2 linked regions of the Homo sapiens genome follow. The protein of the gene in region 2 purifies or fractionates together with the protein of the main gene of each other region. This does not show direct contact. Each region holds a gene or a part of one and is shown on either strand. Other genes may lie near its edges.

Region 1 (3,750 bases), on a different chromosome or scaffold from region 2:
GAATGTGACTGGGGGAAGGGAGCAGAATGAGATATCTCTGTGAGATAGATCTTTGTTGAATCACAGAAATGCATTACTTACTTCAATAGTAATCAAATTCATTTTTTAAAAAGTAGTGCCTTGGCCAGGCACGGTGGCTCAAGCCTGTAATCCCAGTACTTTGGGAGGCTGATGCGGGTGGATCACGAGGTCAGGAGATCAAGATCATCCTGGCTAACATGGTGAAACCTCGTCTCTACTAAAAATACAAAAAATTAGCCGGGCGTGGTGGCTGACACCTATAGTCCCAGCTACTCGGGAGGCTGAGGCAGAAGAATGGCGTGAACCCGGGAGGCGGAGCTTGCAGTGAGCCGAGATTGCGCCACTGCACTCCAGCCTAGGGGACAGAGTGAGACTCCGTCTCAAAAAAAAAAAAAAAAAAAAAAGCAGTCCCTTAACCTGAAAACAACAAATGAACCCAACTGTATGTTAATTTAGTAACATAATTCCTCAGAAAAACGATTTCAAATGACTTTAGAACAGAGTTCTTTGACTACATACATCTTTAGTGAGATGCATTTTAAAAGCTGGGCTCAGTGGCTCATGCCTGAAATCCCAGCACTTTGGGAGGCCAAGACGAGTAGGAAGTCAGGAGTTCGAGACCAGCCTGGCCAACATGGTGAAACGCTGTCTCTACTAGAAATACAAAAATTAGCTAGGCGTCATGGTGGGCACCTGTAATCCCAGCTACTCAGGAGGCTGAGGCAGGAGAATCGCTGGAACTGGGGAGGCAGATGTTGCAAGTGAGCCAAGATCACACCACTGCACTCTGCCCTGGGCAAAAGAGTAAGACAACATCTCAAAAAAAAAAAAAAGATGCATTTTAAGAACAAAAATAGTTACATATATTAAAGAAAGAATTTTTTAACATGATACAGTATGTTTATGGTTACTACTAGTATCAGCATTGTTACTGAAACCATTTTCTTTATATTGCAGGATAAAGCAAACAAAATAAGTACTTATAACTTGTTTCATATTTTTTACTATAAAATACAACTAGGAGGCCGGGCGCCGTGGCTCACGCCTGTAATCCCAGCGCTTTGGGAGGCCAAGGTGGGCAGATCACCTGAGGTTAGGAGATCGAGACCATCCTGGCTAACACGGTGAAACCCCATCTCTACTAAAAATACAAAAACTTAGCTGGGCGTGGTGGCATGCACCTGTAGTCCCAGCTACTCGGGAGGCTGAAGCAGGAGAATCACTTGAACCCAGGAGGCGGAGATTGCAGTGAGCTGAGATCGTGCCACTGCACTCCAGCCTGGGCGACAGAGCAAGACTCCGTCTCAAAAATAAAATAAAATTAAATTAAAAAAAAGAACTAGGAGCTAAGAAATTAGGTAAAAATACTATACCATTTAAAGTGAATTAGAAATACGAATATGGACTCATGATTTTTAAAAATACATTAAAAATGTATTTTTTAAATGCTCTGCAATTTAAAATGGCCTTAAAACAATGTTACCCCTGGGCAATGAGCACACCCTTGATCTTGTCTCTAATACCATTCTCCAATAAAAGGAACCAGAGCTCCTTGGAGAAATGGTCAATTCCAAGTCTGGGAGGAAGATACAAGCCTGCAGTGCAGGAAAACTTTCCAAGATCAATGATGTCAGCCAAAATGAGACAAGAATGACCTGAAGGGGTATCCACTGGCATCAAAAAGTGCAGCTGATTCTAGAACACGCTAAATATACACAACTTTAGGATGATGTTTAAGAAAGAAAAAGCCAGGGGGAAAAAAAGATACAATTTGATGTAACAATGAAACAAATGTAAAAGGAATGAAAAGACAAGAGAAATTAAGACTATACTTCCAGGGATCATTTCTAGTTTGTTCCCAGAAGTTTCTCTTAACGTATAGACTACTACATTTTTACACAAAACAAACAAACAACAACAACAAAAAAAACAGAAAATCATCACTTTACAATACCTGTAGAAATTTACTCATCCAGCCAAGAATTATGTATTGGTTTTAAAACCATCCACTAAATGACTGATGGAGAATGAACCAAAGTAAACATAACATTTTGGTCAAAGGGAAGTAACAATCACCAGCCATCTGGTATATCTCTCCTAATGGTATGCAATTTGAAGTATGTAAGATCACCTCTGATGTATTCTGGCCAAAAATCAATCACAATTAGAATTAAAAAAAAAATCATCAGAGATTCTGAATTAGAACCATGCAAAAGTAATCATAGAAATCAAAGAACAAATCTTCCAAAGGAGCGGATAATGATGACTTTCTAAAGATAAACATAACTCAAACACAGAAATCTAACTTCCAGCCTGGGCAACATAGTAAGACTCCATCTCTACAAAAAAAGGTTTAAAAATTAGCAGGTCGTGGTGGCACACACCTGTAGTCCCAACCACTGCGGGGGTGGGGCTGAGGTGGGAGGATCTCTTCAGCCCAGGAGGTGGAGGCTGCAATGAGATGTGATCGCACCAGTGCACCCAGCCTGAGCCAGAGTGAGACCCCATCTCAAAAATCAAAAAACAAACCTAACTTCCTGATTCCAGTTAAAAAAGGAAATATCCACAGAAAATTTTAAGTGGCCAGGCGCAGTGGCTCACGCCTGTAATCCCAGCACTTTGGGAGGCCGAGGTGGGCGGATCACGAGGTCAGGAGATGGAGACCATCCTGGCTAACACGGTGAAATCCCGTCTCTACTAAAAATACAAAAAATTAGCCGGACGTGGTGGTGGGCGCCCGTAGTCCCAGCTACTTGGGAGGCTAAGGCTGGAGAATGGCGTGAACCTGGGAGGTGAAGCTTGCAGTGAGCCAAGATAGCACCACTGCACTCCAGCCTGGGCGACAAACCGAGACTCTGTCCCCCCCTCCACCAAAAAAAAAGAAAATTTTAAGTAAAAAAATTAAAATATAGAAATATTAGGCCGGGCGCAGTGGCTCACGCCTGTAATGCCAGGACTTTGGGAGGCTGAGGCAGGTGGATCACAAGGTCAGGAGATCCAGACCATCCTGGCTAACGCGGTGAAACCCCATCTCTACTAAAAATACAAAAACAAAATTAGCCAGGCGTGGTGGCTGGCACCTGTAGTCCCAGCTACTCAGGAGGCTGAGGCGGGAGAATGGCATGAACCAGGGAGGCAGAGCCTGCAGTGAGCCGAGATCAGGCCACTGCACTGCAGCCTGGGCGACAGTGAGACTCCATCAAAAAAAAAAAAGAAATATTAATAACAAAAGTGCATCTACATATCTTATTCTTTCAGAAATTCCTACCAGACACAGGACTATAATATTTTCTGAGGAAGCATTTTTTTTGCAGCTAGTAATAAAAAGTACTAGTATTTAACATTAATCAAGTACTTACTACACACTGGGGACTATTCTTAGAACTTTACATGTATTAACTTCTGGAGCTACACAACCACCCTTTGAATCAAATATTGCTATTATTTCTATACTATGAAATGAGCAACTGAGGCCCAAGGTTTAAGTACCTACCTGAGGTCCCCAAGGTAAAAAGTGGCAGAGGAAGGAGTTAACACAGGAAGTCTGGCTCCTTGGCCTATGTCTTCCTTTAATTTAAAAAAAAAAAAAAAAAAATTAGCTCATGCCTGTAATCCCAGTACTTTGGGAGGCTGAGGCAGGCAGATCACATGAGGTCAGGAGTTCGAGACCAGCCTGGTCACCATGGTGAAACCCCGTCTCTACTAAAAATACAAAGCCTTTGCCCTGTC
Region 2 (3,750 bases):
TGGGTTTTTTTTTCTTTTTTTTTTTTTTTTTAACTTATTTATTTGTTTTTTTAGACAGGGTCTTGCTCTGTTGACCAAGCTGGAGGACAGTGGTGAAATCACAGCTCACTGCAGTCTCAAACTCCTGAGCTGAAGGGATCCTCCTGCCTCAGTCTCAGGAGTAGCTGGGATTATAGGTGTAAGCCACTGTGCCCAGCTTGGTTGCTGGCTTTTAATATTGAAGTGACACTAAATCAAGGAATTGAGCTACCTAGGTCAAATGTTACCAAGGATTTTAGCTTGCTAAATGGATCAGAAATAAGTTGCTATTATATATGATTGATTTGTAAGACTAGTAGTTCTCATAACTGTAGGGTTCTTAAGAATCAACTGAGTGACTTGTTATGAATGCAGATTTCCTTGGGCCCAGTCCAGAGATTCTAATAGTGCAGTTGAGAATGGGTCTCAGGAATCTGCAGATTACAAGCACCCAGTTAATTTTGAGGCAAAAGCTTATGAACCTACTTTAAGAAACAGATTGTTTCTATGACCTCTTTAAATTTAATTCTTAGGACACTGTGTGTTTCATATGAACCATGTTTCAGTATACTGCATTCTGTATTGAGATTATGGAAATGCGTGGATAACATTTAAATGTGTGATTCCATTGACCAGTCATTGGGTGCAGGCTGACAGTGGGAAGGAGGTGTGACTTTGGGCAAGTAGGCTCCAGTAAGAGGACTTGGCTGAGAGCTGTCAGCAACCAGCACTCCCAGCAGCAGCAGTGGGGGCTATGAATGCCTTGGTCCTGAATGGGGAGTGCCAGGGAGATCTGGGCAGCATACTGCAACATCCACTACAGATGAAGCCATGGTTTTGAATATCGAGTGTATGAAAGAGTAATGGTATCAAATCATTTTATTATTACATATCTAGTGCCAGGTGACTTGTTAGGTGTGGAGGAATGGTAGAGAGAAGAAAATTGGGAAGGATTTTTGGTTTGGTGGAAAAGATGAGATTGGTTTTAGATCCGCTGAATTTGGCATTGAGGTAGAACTGCCCTGTAGATCATTGGAGATATGATAGTAAAGCTGAAATCTGAAATAAGGAATAGAGATGATGAGGAAATAATTAAAATGACAGTGGTAACAGTGATATTTAGCTGATAGGCTAGCTTTTAGTTTTATGCTGTAATTCAGGTACTCTGAATATTGTACTTTGCTAATGTAATGTAACAGTTTTGTTATAGTTATGAAGAACCAAGTAGTTAGCAAGAGTGACTGCCAAATCACTGTCATATATAAATATGTCCCCAATCTTTCTAGGTTCTGGGAAGTTCTGGATTGTTTAATAACCATGGACTCCAAGTACAGCAGCAACAGCAAAGGAATCTCTCACTACATGAATACATGAGTATGGAATTATTGCAAGAAGCTGGTGTCTCCGTTCCCAAAGGATATGTGGCAAAGTCACCAGATGAAGCTTATGCAATTGCCAAAAAATTAGGTACTAAATTAAGAAAAGCTTTTGCCACCTTGACATGAGAGCTCTGAGAAGATTTGAAGTTTGTTTTTGGTTTGATAACAACTTTTAGCTTTTTTTTAAAAAAAATACATTTTCTTTGCTTAAAATAGAAGGTAGAACTTTATTATTATTGAAATTCTAAAATTATTATTATTATTATTATTATGAGCACCCATAATGCCAGTGACGTGGGAGTCACTTACATTGGCATTAGGAAGCTGAAGTCCTGTTTTTAGTTGGAATATAATTATGGGGAAGGGAATTCTACTACTACCACTCTAACTACTCTGGAGCTTAAAGGATGGCAGTTGTGATGATTCTTCAGGGAAATGGTGAAGGAAAATCTTAGCTGTTTATGTGCTTATAAGGAGAGGTCCGTGCTTCCCCCTCCATTTTTTTGTCATGAAAAATATGGAACCAAAGGGGAACAAAAAGTAGAGTGCTAGAATGTAAACTCCTTGAGAGCAGAGTTTCTTTTTCTTTTCTTTTTTTTTTTTTTTTGAGACGGAGTTTCATTCTTATTGCCCAGGTTGGAGTGCAATGGTGCAATCCTGGCTCACTGCAACCTCCGCTTCCCGGGTTCAAGGGATTCTCCTGCCTCAGCCTCCCGAGTACCTGGTATTACAAGCACCACCACCATGTCCGGCTAATTTTTTTGTATTTTTAGTAGAGACGGGTTTTCACTATGTTGGCCAGGCTGGTCTTGAACTCCTGACCTCGTGATCTGCCCGCCTCCGCCTCCCAAAGTGCTGGGATTACAGGTGTGAGCCACCACATACAGCCCGAGTTTCTTTTTCTTATTTGTTCACTGATATATCCCAAAATCTTAGAAGAATGCCTGACACTTAGGTAATCAATAAATACTAAATGAATAAATATTAAATGAATTTAATAGTTGCCCATGTTTATTAGCAGATTCCTTTATTGATAACAGAAGCCTTAATAGCTTTTGTCAATTTGAATTAATCTCTTAATCAAAAAATAATTTTTGATTTCAGAAAATAAGCTTACATTTTTAAAGATTTAGCATGAAAACCATGAGCTGATGTACTAGCTATACACTGCAGTTTCTTTTTAGCAGTATTTTAAATCCCACCAATTTTACGTAGATTAGCATAAATAATCTCTCTTCTATGTACATTTAATTAATAGGCTTTAAATATGATTTGGTGAATACTTTGCTTTTATATTTTTTAAGAAAGATGAGCATTTTCAAAGTGATTGAAATTTTAAAAGTATTCATCTTGTGTAGTACTTATTTGTATCTAGAATGGATTTTTCTTTCAAAATTAAGGATATATACAAGTTCAGAAAACTGTCATATAAGCTATGTTTTTGAATGAGATGGCCATGATTTCCTTGACTTGGAAGCATGATTTTTCATTTATAGTTTTGTTGTTTTTATTGTTGTTAATCAGAAAGAATTATTTTAAATCAGATTACAAGCAAACTTTTTATTAAGCAAAAGCTTTGTATAAGTTCATACTAATTGTGGTGAAATTTTTGTTAATGGTGACCTATAATTGGAACTTCTGCATGGTTAATGTTAATGGGACCTGATTTATATATAATTACGTCGGTAAAAATGGTTTTCCTCTTGTTTCCAGATTTTAAAATTCCAAAAAAAAATTTTTTTTAGAGATAGGGTCACTATGTTGCCCAGGCTAGTCTGAAACTCCTGGGCTCAAGTGATCCTCCTACTTAGGCCTCTGAGTAGCTGGAACTACAGGCACATGCCACTGTGTCTATTTTTTGAGTATTATAATTGGTTTCTTTAACTAGTTTTCCGTATATTTTCTCATTTAGTGAAATTCCATTGTTTTGTCAGAAAAAATAATTTGCATAGAAACTTTTTCATAAAATGAATAGGATTAATTCAGATGCCAATCTGTTTTGATTATGCCTTATAAAAACTTAATGATTCTTAGGTACAGAAGAAAGAAATAATATGTGCAGGATAAACTGTAACTATGAGTATTTCTGGCAAGTTCTCTGGGACCAGAACTCACAAGTAATAAGAAGCAGGTAGGCAGCTCTGATTTTGAGCCCCTTGGAACAGATACCTTGTTCATTTAGAAAGTGTGTTTTTTGTCAAAGAATATTGCAAATGATGATTATAGTGTGGGAGGGAGACTAATAATTAACAAGGAAATTTAAATCTAGAGGAGCAGAAATGCTAGTTTTTAAAAGATAAATTTAGAAACGTCTATGAAAATATGGAGGACAATTTCGTGGTTTTTTTTTTTT

What was found.
Region 1: the proteins of SUCLA2 (region 2) and ZNF146 purify together in Homo sapiens (affinity purification with mass spectrometry; 2 studies listed by BioGRID and IntAct, with this or other methods). This does not show direct contact.

What each region holds. Positions count from the first base shown.
Region 1 is NC_000019.10:36,217,960-36,221,709, reverse strand, and holds part of ZNF146 (zinc finger protein OZF), read right to left. Parts: intron 3,589-3,750; 5' UTR 3,515-3,588; intron 1-3,514.
Region 2 is NC_000013.11:47,994,578-47,998,327, reverse strand, and holds part of SUCLA2 (succinate--CoA ligase [ADP-forming] subunit beta, mitochondrial precursor), read left to right. Parts: intron 1-1,304; coding exon 1,305-1,485; intron 1,486-3,750. UniProt on the Homo sapiens protein: ATP-specific succinyl-CoA synthetase functions in the citric acid cycle (TCA), coupling the hydrolysis of succinyl-CoA to the synthesis of ATP and thus represents the only step of substrate-level phosphorylation in the TCA.